Linked DNA regions of Homo sapiens: region 1 is linked to region 2. Evidence: fine-mapped expression QTL. Tissue or cell type: lung. Region 2 holds a variant in brackets; the other region holds the start of a gene. All regions are shown on one strand. Distances are between the middles of the regions. Region 1 holds the start of SFRP5 (secreted frizzled related protein 5). Region 2 holds the start of LOC107984260 (a long non-coding RNA gene).

Region 1 (5,372 bases), 48 kb after region 2:
CAGGTGATCTGCCCACCTCGGCCTCCCAAAGTGCTGGGATTACAGGCATGAGCCACCATGCCCAGCCACCACTTTCTTTTTTTAAGAGACAGGGTCTTGCTCTGTTGCCCAGGCTGGAGTGCAATGGTGCAATCACAGCTCACTGTAACCTCGAACTCCTGAACTCAAGCAGTTCTCCCACCTCAGCCTCCAGAGTAGCTGGGATTGCAGGCGCATGCCACCATACCCAGTTAACTTTTCTAATTTTTGTAGAGATGGAGTCTTGCTGTGTTGCCCAGGCTGGTCTCAAACTCCAGGGCTCAAGCGATCCTCTCACCTCAGCCTCCCAAAGTGCTGGGATTTACGGGCGAGAACAACTGCACCCAGCCCATACAGCACATTTTTACCTCAAAGTCACACGTCCCTTGGGGATCTAACATTCCTAGGTGTTCATTCTGTGTGTTGGCACTGTGCAGGGGGCTTTCTTTCCATTCACCTTATTTGCTTCTCACAGTAACTGCTGAAGAAATTCCATTTTACAAAGAAGGAAATGAGGTTAAGTACTTGCCCAAGGTCATACAGCTAATATGTGGCCAGGATCTGAACCTGGCTCCATCGTCTGCAGAGCCCAGGCTCTCGCACCATTGCTACACTGCACTGCCTGGCCCTGCAGAGACCAGTCCTTCACCTTCTGAGTGGCCATCTGCATAACCTCTTCATGCTGGGGGCTGGGAGAGGGAGAGGGGAAAAGAAGGCCAAAGTTTACTCTACCTGGACCCCACTAGGTCATCCTGGACATCAAACACGGCTTGTCCCACCCTTGGGGCTCAGTGAGATGAGGCTTCTCCTGCCTCCTCTGCCTGCCTTGTATCTTTTTCTTACAACTAGATCAGAAGGAACAGAGCCATGTCTTTTGCACCTCTGTGTCCCCATGCATACCCTACCCCATGCCTTGCAGATAGTAGGTACTCTATGCATTTTCTGTGAATATTAAGGAGTGGCCCCTCACCCCTCTCCACTACCACTGCAAGGACAGACCCAGAGGAAGACAGGAGCCCTGGAAACATCCATTAGTGGGACTAAGGGGAGGAGCAGAGGGGGAAAGTGCCCAGTACTCCTGCCTTCCAGCAGAGCCAGCCCCCAGCTCCCCACGCCCTCCTAGGAGACACCTCCCCAAGGTACCCTCCCCACCAAAGACTGGGAGGTCAGGTGTCAGGCTAGGCTCTCAGGAAGGAATTCCCCTCCCTTCAAGCCTCCAGTCCAAATTCCTCTCAAGGGAGAGCCAATGAAAGGCAGGACTCAGACAGGAGAGAAAGACACCAAGCATGGGGCTCCTGAAGGTCCCCTCCCCTCTGATGCTTGCCTGGGTGCCCTGCTCAGACACACCATCAATTCCCCCTCTTCCCACTGTGTTCCCTACCATGGGTTGGAAGTTATCTTACCACAGAGTGGTTAAGCCCTGGCCTTTGTAGCCCAACATCTGGATTCAAATCCTAGCTCCTTCACATATGAGCTGTGTGGCCAAGGGCCAGTTACTCCACTTCTCTGAACTCCCTATCCCCTTGGTCATTAGGCCTACAGACTCAGAATCCAGGCCTCCTGGTTGTTTCTGGGCTCTGACTCTCGAAAAAGACTATCTGGGTTCAAATCCCAGCTCTAATCTGTGCTTAACCTCTCTGCCGCAGGATCTTTATCTGTAAGGTGGGGACAATAATAGTACCTACCCACCATCTAGCCTTATTGTGAGAATTAGCTGAGGGAGTTTATGCAATGTGCTCAGATCAGACTTGGCACACAATTAGCACCCACTAAGTATTGGCTATCATTAGCAATAGCTGATAAGCTTGGAACGTACCTTGCACCGCACCTTGCACCGCACCTTGCACCTTGCACCGTCCCTGGCAGGTAGTAAGAGCTCACTAAATAGAAGCTATGATTACCTTCACCCCCACTAGACTATCCTGGCCCTGGAGGTGGGTTCTGGGTCATATCCATCTTTGATTCCCCAGCAGCCAGCATGGGGCCTGGCACCAAGCTCAATGAAGACCTGCCAGGAGGACCAGAAGATCCAGGGTGTGGGGTGGCACGAGCCTCCCACCAGGGAGAAGAGGAACCGAGGTGTCGGGGAAGAGAAAACAGAGCAGAGGGAGAAAAGCCAAGGCAGAGAGATAAGCAAGTGAAGTGAGTGAGAAAAGGAACAGGAGAGGCTGTGGCGGAGAGAGATAAGGAGGAAGGATGGAGAAGGCGAGGGTCGAGGAAAATGCCCAGGGAGGCAGGGAGCCCTGGGGAGAAACGCTGGGCGAGGCCAGGGCTGCGGCAGGGGAGCCGAGCCGGGAGAGGGGCGCAAGACCTGGCGCTGGGCGGGACGCTCGGGCAGGGTGCGGGAGGGGCTGAGGGCCGCCCCCACTGCCTCCCCGCCTTGGAGCTGGGGCCAGGCGGCCGGAGATTGGCTGGGGCGCACGGCGAGGCCCGGGCTGGAGCCCCGAGGTGGGAGGCGCCAGGATCAGTCGGGGCGCCCGCAGCGCAGGCTGCCACCCACCTGGGCGACCTCCGCGGCGGCGGCGGCGGCGGCTGGGTAGAGTCAGGGCCGGGGGCGCACGCCGGAACACCTGGGCCGCCGGGCACCGAGCGTCGGGGGGCTGCGCGGCGCGCACCTGGAGAGGGCGCAGCCATGCGGGCGGCGGCGGCGGGGGGGGGCGTGCGGACGGCCGCGCTGGCGCTGCTGCTGGGGGCGCTGCACTGGGCGCCGGCGCGCTGCGAGGAGTACGACTACTATGGCTGGCAGGCCGAGCCGCTGCACGGCCGCTCCTACTCCAAGCCGCCGCAGTGCCTTGACATCCCTGCCGACCTGCCGCTCTGCCACACGGTGGGCTACAAGCGCATGCGGCTGCCCAACCTGCTGGAGCACGAGAGCCTGGCCGAAGTGAAGCAGCAGGCGAGCAGCTGGCTGCCGCTGCTGGCCAAGCGCTGCCACTCGGATACGCAGGTCTTCCTGTGCTCGCTCTTTGCGCCCGTCTGTCTCGACCGGCCCATCTACCCGTGCCGCTCGCTGTGCGAGGCCGTGCGCGCCGGCTGCGCGCCGCTCATGGAGGCCTACGGCTTCCCCTGGCCTGAGATGCTGCACTGCCACAAGTTCCCCCTGGACAACGACCTCTGCATCGCCGTGCAGTTCGGGCACCTGCCCGCCACCGCGCCTCCAGGTAGCGCCGCCGCCGCCGTCCCCGCGCGCTCCGACGGCCCTGCAGCTCCCCTAGCACAGCTCTGCGAACCCCCCAAGAGGTGCAGCTCCCCCCCTCCGCCCACACACACACACACACGCTGTCCTAGCTCAGCCCAGCGTCCCCGGAATTATCCCCCGCAGCCTTCCCGCCTTCCCACCTCCCCAGGGAGTGGCAGCATAGTGCCTCCCGGCGGCTCCAGACCTTCCCTCTGGCTCTCGTTCCCTGGAAACCCCTGGCACCCCTCTCAGTACCCATCCAACCAAGCTGCTGAGAATCCCCCAATGCCGTCCCCCCAATCCTGGGACGTCCTGATAAATGCCTTATGACCCCTCTCAGCCCAAGAATGCCTGGGGTCGTTAAACAATGCCTTTCACCTGGATCCCGAGGCACCAAAGCAAGCATCATCCCCACTCCGTGTTGGGACCTTGGGAAGAGAGGAGAGGTGAGGGAAGGGATGTGGAGAAAGACTGGGGACTAAGAATGTTCTGGACTATGATCTGCGTCCCCGTTTTCTGTACCTGGAACCCTAAGATCTCCACCCTCTTCCCCAGTTCCCCTGGCTGGGAGTCATTCGGGTAAGGCTCAGTGCGGAAGGAAGAGCAGATTAGGCTCTGCCCCTGAAGAGAAGCCCTTAGGCAAGTTGCTTGACTTCACTGAGCCTCAGTTTCCCCATCCATAAAATAGGAAGCCATCCCAGGCTCATGAAACCTATGAGGTCCTAAGTCCCTCCTCCCACCCACCCCTCAGTCCCCTGAACCCTAATTTCTCCCTGGTCTCAGCCTCCCCTTTTCTGTGCTGGTCCACATAGCTCTTCCAGGCTGGCTCCATGCCCTCTCCCCCTTCCTCCCCGTCTGCTGTCAGACTTGAGTAACCGCTCTGGGCCTCGGTTCCCTTTTCTCCAAAATAGGAGTAAGGGCTGGGCGCAGTGGTTCACACTTGTAATCCCAGCACTTTGGGAGGCCAAGGTGGGTGAATCACTTGAGGTCAGGAGTTCTAGACCAGCCTGGCCAACATGGTGAAACCCCGTCTCTACTGAAAATACAAAAATTAGCCGAGCGTGGTGGCACACGCCTGTAATCTCAGCTACTCGGGAGGCTGAGACAGAAGAATCGCTTAAACCTGGGAGGCAGAGGTTGCAGTAAGCTGAGATTAGAGAGCCACTGCACTCCAGCCTGGGTGACAGAGCGAGACTACATCTCAAAAATAAAATAGGAATAAGAATCCCTATTTCATAGGCTGAGGATGAGAGGAGATAAAATTTAAAAGACAATGCACATCATGGCTGCAGCCGCCAGGGTCATGGGGCAGTCACTGTGCCCACCTGGCAGTTTTGTCACTGCACAGCCTGTCTGGTGATTGTCAATCACTCTGTGAGCAGGTAGTGATATGATTGCCATCATCCCATCTCCTGATAAGGAAGTAGAGGCTTGGCAAGGGGAAGTGGCTGGTCAGTGAGGAAGCCTGCACCCCAAGTGGCTCTTGGAACTCCAATCCCCTCACCAACTGTCCCCCAACCCCACCCCACTTTCTCTCTTCAGTGACCAAGATCTGCGCCCAGTGTGAGATGGAGCACAGTGCTGACGGCCTCATGGAGCAGATGTGCTCCAGTGACTTTGGTGAGTGTGGGGCCCACGCTGCCACTGCCCCGACATCACCCCCAGCCCCTCTTTCTTGACGCACACGGGAACATACATGCCCACATCCATCACAGTGAATCCCAACAGTTTTTGCATCATGGCTCCCGTTTAGAAGCCAATTATAACCATAAACCCTTTCCCAAGAGAAATGCACCTCTTTCTGCATCATCTCAGGACCATCACAAGTCCCCTAAGGCCATGGGCCTTGGGCCTCAGAAACCACCCCGGCCAGGGCTCCCACAGCCCTCCCTTGGTGTCATTTTCAGAGGGCCCTCCATGACTGGATCATCTCTGTGGATAGTGCAGGCTTAGCCCAGAGATGGATGGAGCCAGGTGGGGAGTGATGGCTCTAGGATGGAAGTGGAGCACCCTTGTCCATGGGTACCTCCACCTGGGACTCAGCACACCTCCTGCCAGCGGAGCTGTGGTCACCTGTCCCCACAGCTTCATCCCAGAGCCTTCCCATTTTCTGGGACAATCCAGCCAAGTCCGGTCAGGACCTGGCTCACACATGGGCCACGCAGTCCAGTGTGTG
Region 2 (5,372 bases):
CCGTGAGCCCGGGCAGGCCAGGCTTGGGAGACAGATGGGGAGGCCCCAGGAAGGAGAAGAAGGGCCTCGGACAGGCCCCCTCCGGGCCACAGACCACATGCCCCTTCCCCTTCCCCCTCCCAAACAAGAATGACGGGACAAGCCCAAGAAGACAACCCCCACCCTGTGCCCCAGGCGCTGGCTGCTCGCACCTCCATTCCTGTGTGTACTGCTCTCCGCCTCCGCCAGGAGCCCAGCTATTTCTATCTCTATGGAAAGGGAGCCCAAGCCTCCAAGCCTCCTGCCCCCCTTTCCTGCTCCTGGCAGTGCTCTAATTAACTCCTCAGCTGGATGCCGCCTGCCATGGGTACTCTGGCCAGGGCTGCCATGAATAACTGCACCTGCGCTCACACCCAGCTTCCCACAGAGGCTGGGCCCAGTGCCCCTGCAGAGAGTGTGACCACTGGGAGCCTGGTCCTGGGGGCCTGGACTCCCCCGGCTATGCACTCTCCTTTGGGAGCCTGAGCTGAGGGCATATGGGGGTCTTTGGGACCCACCCTCTCCTCTGCAGCCTCCACCACAACCCTGCAGGGGCTACTTGCTGGTTCAGCAATCCTGCTGTGTGCCTGGCATGGGGCTCAGACCTGAGCAGGGAAGGAGTCGGGAGGGCAAGGAGATGAATAAGCCTGTCCTCCCTCAAGGGAGGCAAACACATAAACAACTCATTATGCAATGAGAAGGAATGAAGTTAGTGCTAAATTAAGGTACAAGCTGGGCACCAAGACTGCAGGCCCTCAATTCTTCCCCACTTTTTTTTCTTATTATAAAAGCAATTCATACTCATTTTACAAAGAATTTATATATGCAGATAACAAAAAGAAAATTATAATACATTCTTTATCCATCCACTCAAGGACAACTTTGTCCATACCTGTGGCCCAGACTTCCAAACTTTTTTTAACAGAGCAAGGACAGGTCACAGATCTGAGGGTCTCTCCTCCAGGGACCACCCGCCTGGCTCTGGGACAGTCTTTCCAACTTGAAATTCACAAGAAATGCATAGAAAGATTTCAAAGCAAATAATATGGATAGTATGACAAGTTCATGTAAAAAGAAAAATCCCAAAACTCTATCAATGCCTGGAAAATGTCTGGAAAGATACTTACTAAAGGGTCAACATTTATCAGCTAGGGGGAAAGTGATGGAGGAGCAGATAGACTTTTTTCTGCTAGAAATGTCTTTGAATTGTTACAATAAGCATGGATTTATATAAACTTTATGATTTTTTAAAATGAAAACTTTTTTAAAAAAATTGCTCAAGGCATAATTTCCAAATTTTCTATGGCGTTGTCTTATCTTTGCACTTAGAATAATATAATATGAAAACTAAAAGGAGGTACAGCCACTGTGGAGAGCAGTTTGGCAGTTTCTGCAAAAGGTAAACAGAATTTCCGTATGACCCACCAACTCCACGCATTTGGATATGCTCGAAATGACTGAAAACAGGGACTCCCCTTGTTCACAAATGTTCATCACAGCACTATCCACAGTAACCGAAAGGTAGAAACAACTCAATGTCCATCAACGGCTGAATGGATAAACAAATCGTGTTATGTACATGCAATAGAATATTACTCAGCTATTAAAAAGAAATAAAGTGCTGACACTTGCTATAACATGGATGAAACTTAAAACATTACGCCAAGGGAAGGAAGCCAGACATAAAAGGCCACAGAGTCTATGATTCCTTTGAAATGAAATGAACACAATAGGTAAATCCATAAAGGGAGAAAGCAGATGAGTGGTTACCAGAGGCTGGGGGGAGGGAGAGAATGAGGAGTGATTACTTAATGGGCACAGGGTGTTTTTCTGGAGTGACGAAAAATTTTGAAACTAGTGGTTTTGAAACTGGTGGTTGTACAACATTGGGAATATACTAAATGCCACTGAATTGTATAATTTTTATTTATTTATTTATTTATTTATTGAGACAGGGTCTCACTCTGTTGCCCAGACCAGAGTGCAGTGGGGTGATCTCGGCTCACTGCAACCTCTGCCTCCCAGGCTCAAGCCATCCTCCCATCTCAGCCTCCCACCCCCAGCTCCCACACCACCACACCCAGCTAATTCTTCTACTTTTTGTAGAGACAGGGTTTCACCACGTTGCCCAGGCTAGTTTCAAACTCCTAGACTCAAGTGATCCTCCCACCTTGGCCTCCCAAAGTGCTGGGATTAGAGGTGTGGACCACCACACCCAGACTGAATTGTACACTTTAACACGGTTCCTTGTATGTTATGTGAATTTTATCTAAAAAAAAAAAAAAAAACAAACAAACAAACAAAAAAAACCACAATGAAACATTAAAAATAATAAAAACAAAAACAAAAGCAAAAAGCTTAGTCTCACTCAACTTTCATGCCCCCCAACCCCTGACCACCTGGCCTTCGAGGGTCTTGAAGGAAAAATCTTCAACCTGCCCACTGGCAGGGCCAAGCCACTTGGCTCCCAGAAGGCCTTGGAGAGGCAGGGGCAGTCCAAGGGAGAAAAGTACCCCCAAGTAAGAGAGGGGAGAGGAGCGCAGAGGCAGGAGCTGGGCCAGGCAGACAGAAGAGGGAAAGCAGCCATCCTGCACCAGGCACCACACTCCCGAGGAACCCTCGGATATCCCTGAGAGGTCAGAACTGCTATCCCATTCTTCAGATGAGAAAACCAAGGTTCAGTGTGGCTTGGAGGCAGGGCTGGGACCTCCTGACTCCAAGGAGGAGAGGCAGGGGAACCTGGCATAGCCCCAGGTTGTTTTCTATTTGTTCCATCTATTTTTTTCCCCTTTTCTGCCTTCTTTTGGACTATTTTTGATTATTCCATTTTATCTTCTTTATTGGCTTAGCAGCTGTAACTCTGCTATTTTAGCAGTTGCTTTAGTGTTTATAGTACACATCTTGACCTTTTCACAATTTACCTTCAAGTGATGTTGTGCCACTTCACATCGAGTATAAGAACCTTACA[TTTACAG/G]AATTTACTTCCATTTCTCCCCACCTGGCCCGAGTTCCCCCTCTCTGGGTTGTGGCCGAAAACACTCTCCAGGTAGTAAGCAGAGACAACCATAGAGCTCTGTGGGACCCCTGAATCTTGTAGCCTAATGTCTAGTGTCTTGAAAACCATTATTTCATATGTTCTGTCTGTTTTTTAAAAATTGTTTCAGGCAGGAGTATAAATCCAGTCCCTGCTACCCTGTCTTGGCCAGAAGCAGAAGCCCCCAACATGCATAGGAGGAAACCAGGACTCAGAGGCTAATCCCCTCACCCAAGGTGAGGGAGCCCATAAGTGGACAGGCAGGAATCCAACCAGCCCTGGTGCTCTCTTCCCTGGCCCACTGCTCCTGCATGAACCAACTGAGAATGCAGAAACCACTCTCAGTAGGAGAAAGTGAACTTTTGTCACCACAGCAAAAAGCTGCTCACAGCATTGTTACTGCTTTGGAAGCCAGTGGGACAATTCTTTTGCATAAAGTTACCCATTAAAGAGCAACTTTCAGCATCTTCCAAGCCTCACCTTAAATGCTCTCTCTTTGCATCTACAGAAGCCTCTGTGGCATATTCCCCACGGTGTTTGCTGTCTAGCAGGATGCATAGGTCTGCTGAGAATGTAGGATCAGCCCCCTATAAAAGTACTCTGTAACCTATAATATGCTGTAACAGATGGAATTGTCTCCCCACTTACCCTCCCATGAGTATTTTCTGGCTCAATCTAATCACCTAGGTGGTGGAATTGCGGTAACTCTGAGTGTGTGTATGTGTGCATACGTGTGTGTGTGTGTGTGTGTGTGTGTGTGTGTGTGTGTGAGAGAATTTGGAGGCAAGGAGGAGGCCCGTTTTTATCACACTAGTCAACTCACTTTACGTTCAGGGATCTATTTGTCTTTAAGCAGAGGGAGAGGTATTTTTCCTTAAAATCACTTGAGGCAGCTGGCTGAGGCCAGATTCCGACAGAATCTGATGGGGGACGGGGCCTAAAATAGCCTTCAGCTCCTCCCCACCCTCTATCTTGCAGGCAGAGAGGAGTCGGGGCCCAGTTCTTTCCCAAGCCCTCTCCTCCACCAGCTGACCCCAGAAATACTTTATTTAGAAAATCAATCTGAAAGCAACAGGAAGGACTTTCATTCCTACCAGCACCTTGTCACACATCAATTTCATTTAAGGCTCTACAATTCCACAGCTGTGAGGCGCAGGCAAAGTCCTTAGCCTGGCCAAGACTCAAGCTCCTCATCTGTAAACTCCCAGGACTGACCGTTAAGTGGCAAACATGATGCATGTGGCACAGATTGGGAGCTTGAATCTTAGGCTTCTTTCCGTCCTCCTCATAGTCCATTCACCTTGTTGAATGTTGACAACAGCATTCAGCTATTGGTGTTACCAGCAAAAGTGTTACCCAGGCCGGGCACGGTGGCTCACTCCTGTTATCCCAGCATTTTGGGGGGTCAAGGCGGGCAGATCACCTGAGCTCAGGAGTTCGAGACCAGCCTGGCCAACATGGTGAAAACCCGTCTCTACTAAAAATACAAAAATTAGCCAGGCGTGGTGGTGAGCACCTGTAATCCCAGCTACTCGAGAGGCTGAGGCAGGAGAAACACTTGAACCTGGGAGACGGAGGTTGCAGTGAGCCAAGACTATGCCACTGTACAATCGGAATGAGTGAGACACCATCTCAAAGAAAAAAAAAAACAGCATTACCCTTAGAAGTCTGTGTCCTGCTTGTCGGTCTGTTGCTTCCAACTAAAACAGATGGAAGGAAAACCCATAAACAACACCCTCCCTGCTCCATCCAGATCAGAGGTTTTCAAAGTTTGCTGCCCATTAGAATCCCCTGGGGAGTTTTAAAAATCCCAACACCAGCTGCACCCCAGATTCATTAAATCCAAATCTCTGGGGATGGGGTCCTGGCATCAGGAAATGTTAAAGCTTCCCGGGGGCTTCCTGTGTGCAGCTGGGGTTGAGAAGCCATGGTCTGGTGTGAGAGGTCCTGAATGCTCTGCCTGCCCCACCCTCTCCTTCACCTGCAATCCCAGCACATCCCTCGGGCTCCCTGAGTGCAGTAACCAGGATGCAGGACCAGACAAGTTTGGGAGAGTGGGACATTTAGGGAGCCCGCATTCTCAAGTTCTGGCAGGAGTGGGTGGGGAGTGGGCCCTTCACCACCCTGAGAATGAGGGCCTCCCATATTTTGCTCCCCAGGAACCTCATTATTAAGGAAATGCTCTCTTGCTGGGCCACTTCAAGAACCTGAGCATAAGCGCCTCCTTACGTACGCCCTGGCCACCACGAGGGTGCCTCCCTACCCCTGCCCCTCCTTACCTACAAAGGGCCATGATTCCAGCCCCCTGGCCAGAGCCCAG

What was found.
Region 1: SFRP5 starts here. The variant in region 2 is fine-mapped to the expression of SFRP5 in lung (TOPMed, PIP 0.93).

What each region holds. Positions count from the first base shown.
Region 1 is chr10:97,769,112-97,774,483 of GRCh38, reverse strand. It overlaps SFRP5 (secreted frizzled related protein 5), which reads left to right and starts at 2,485. Exons shown (of 3, transcript NM_003015.3): 1 at 2,485-3,179; 2 at 4,739-4,816. The coding sequence starts at 2,651.
Region 2 is chr10:97,816,769-97,822,140 of GRCh38, reverse strand. LOC107984260 (a long non-coding RNA gene) reads right to left here and starts at 244. Exons shown (of 3, transcript XR_001747563.2): 1 at 1-244. The variant TTTACAG/G (reference allele first, on the strand shown) is at 2,987.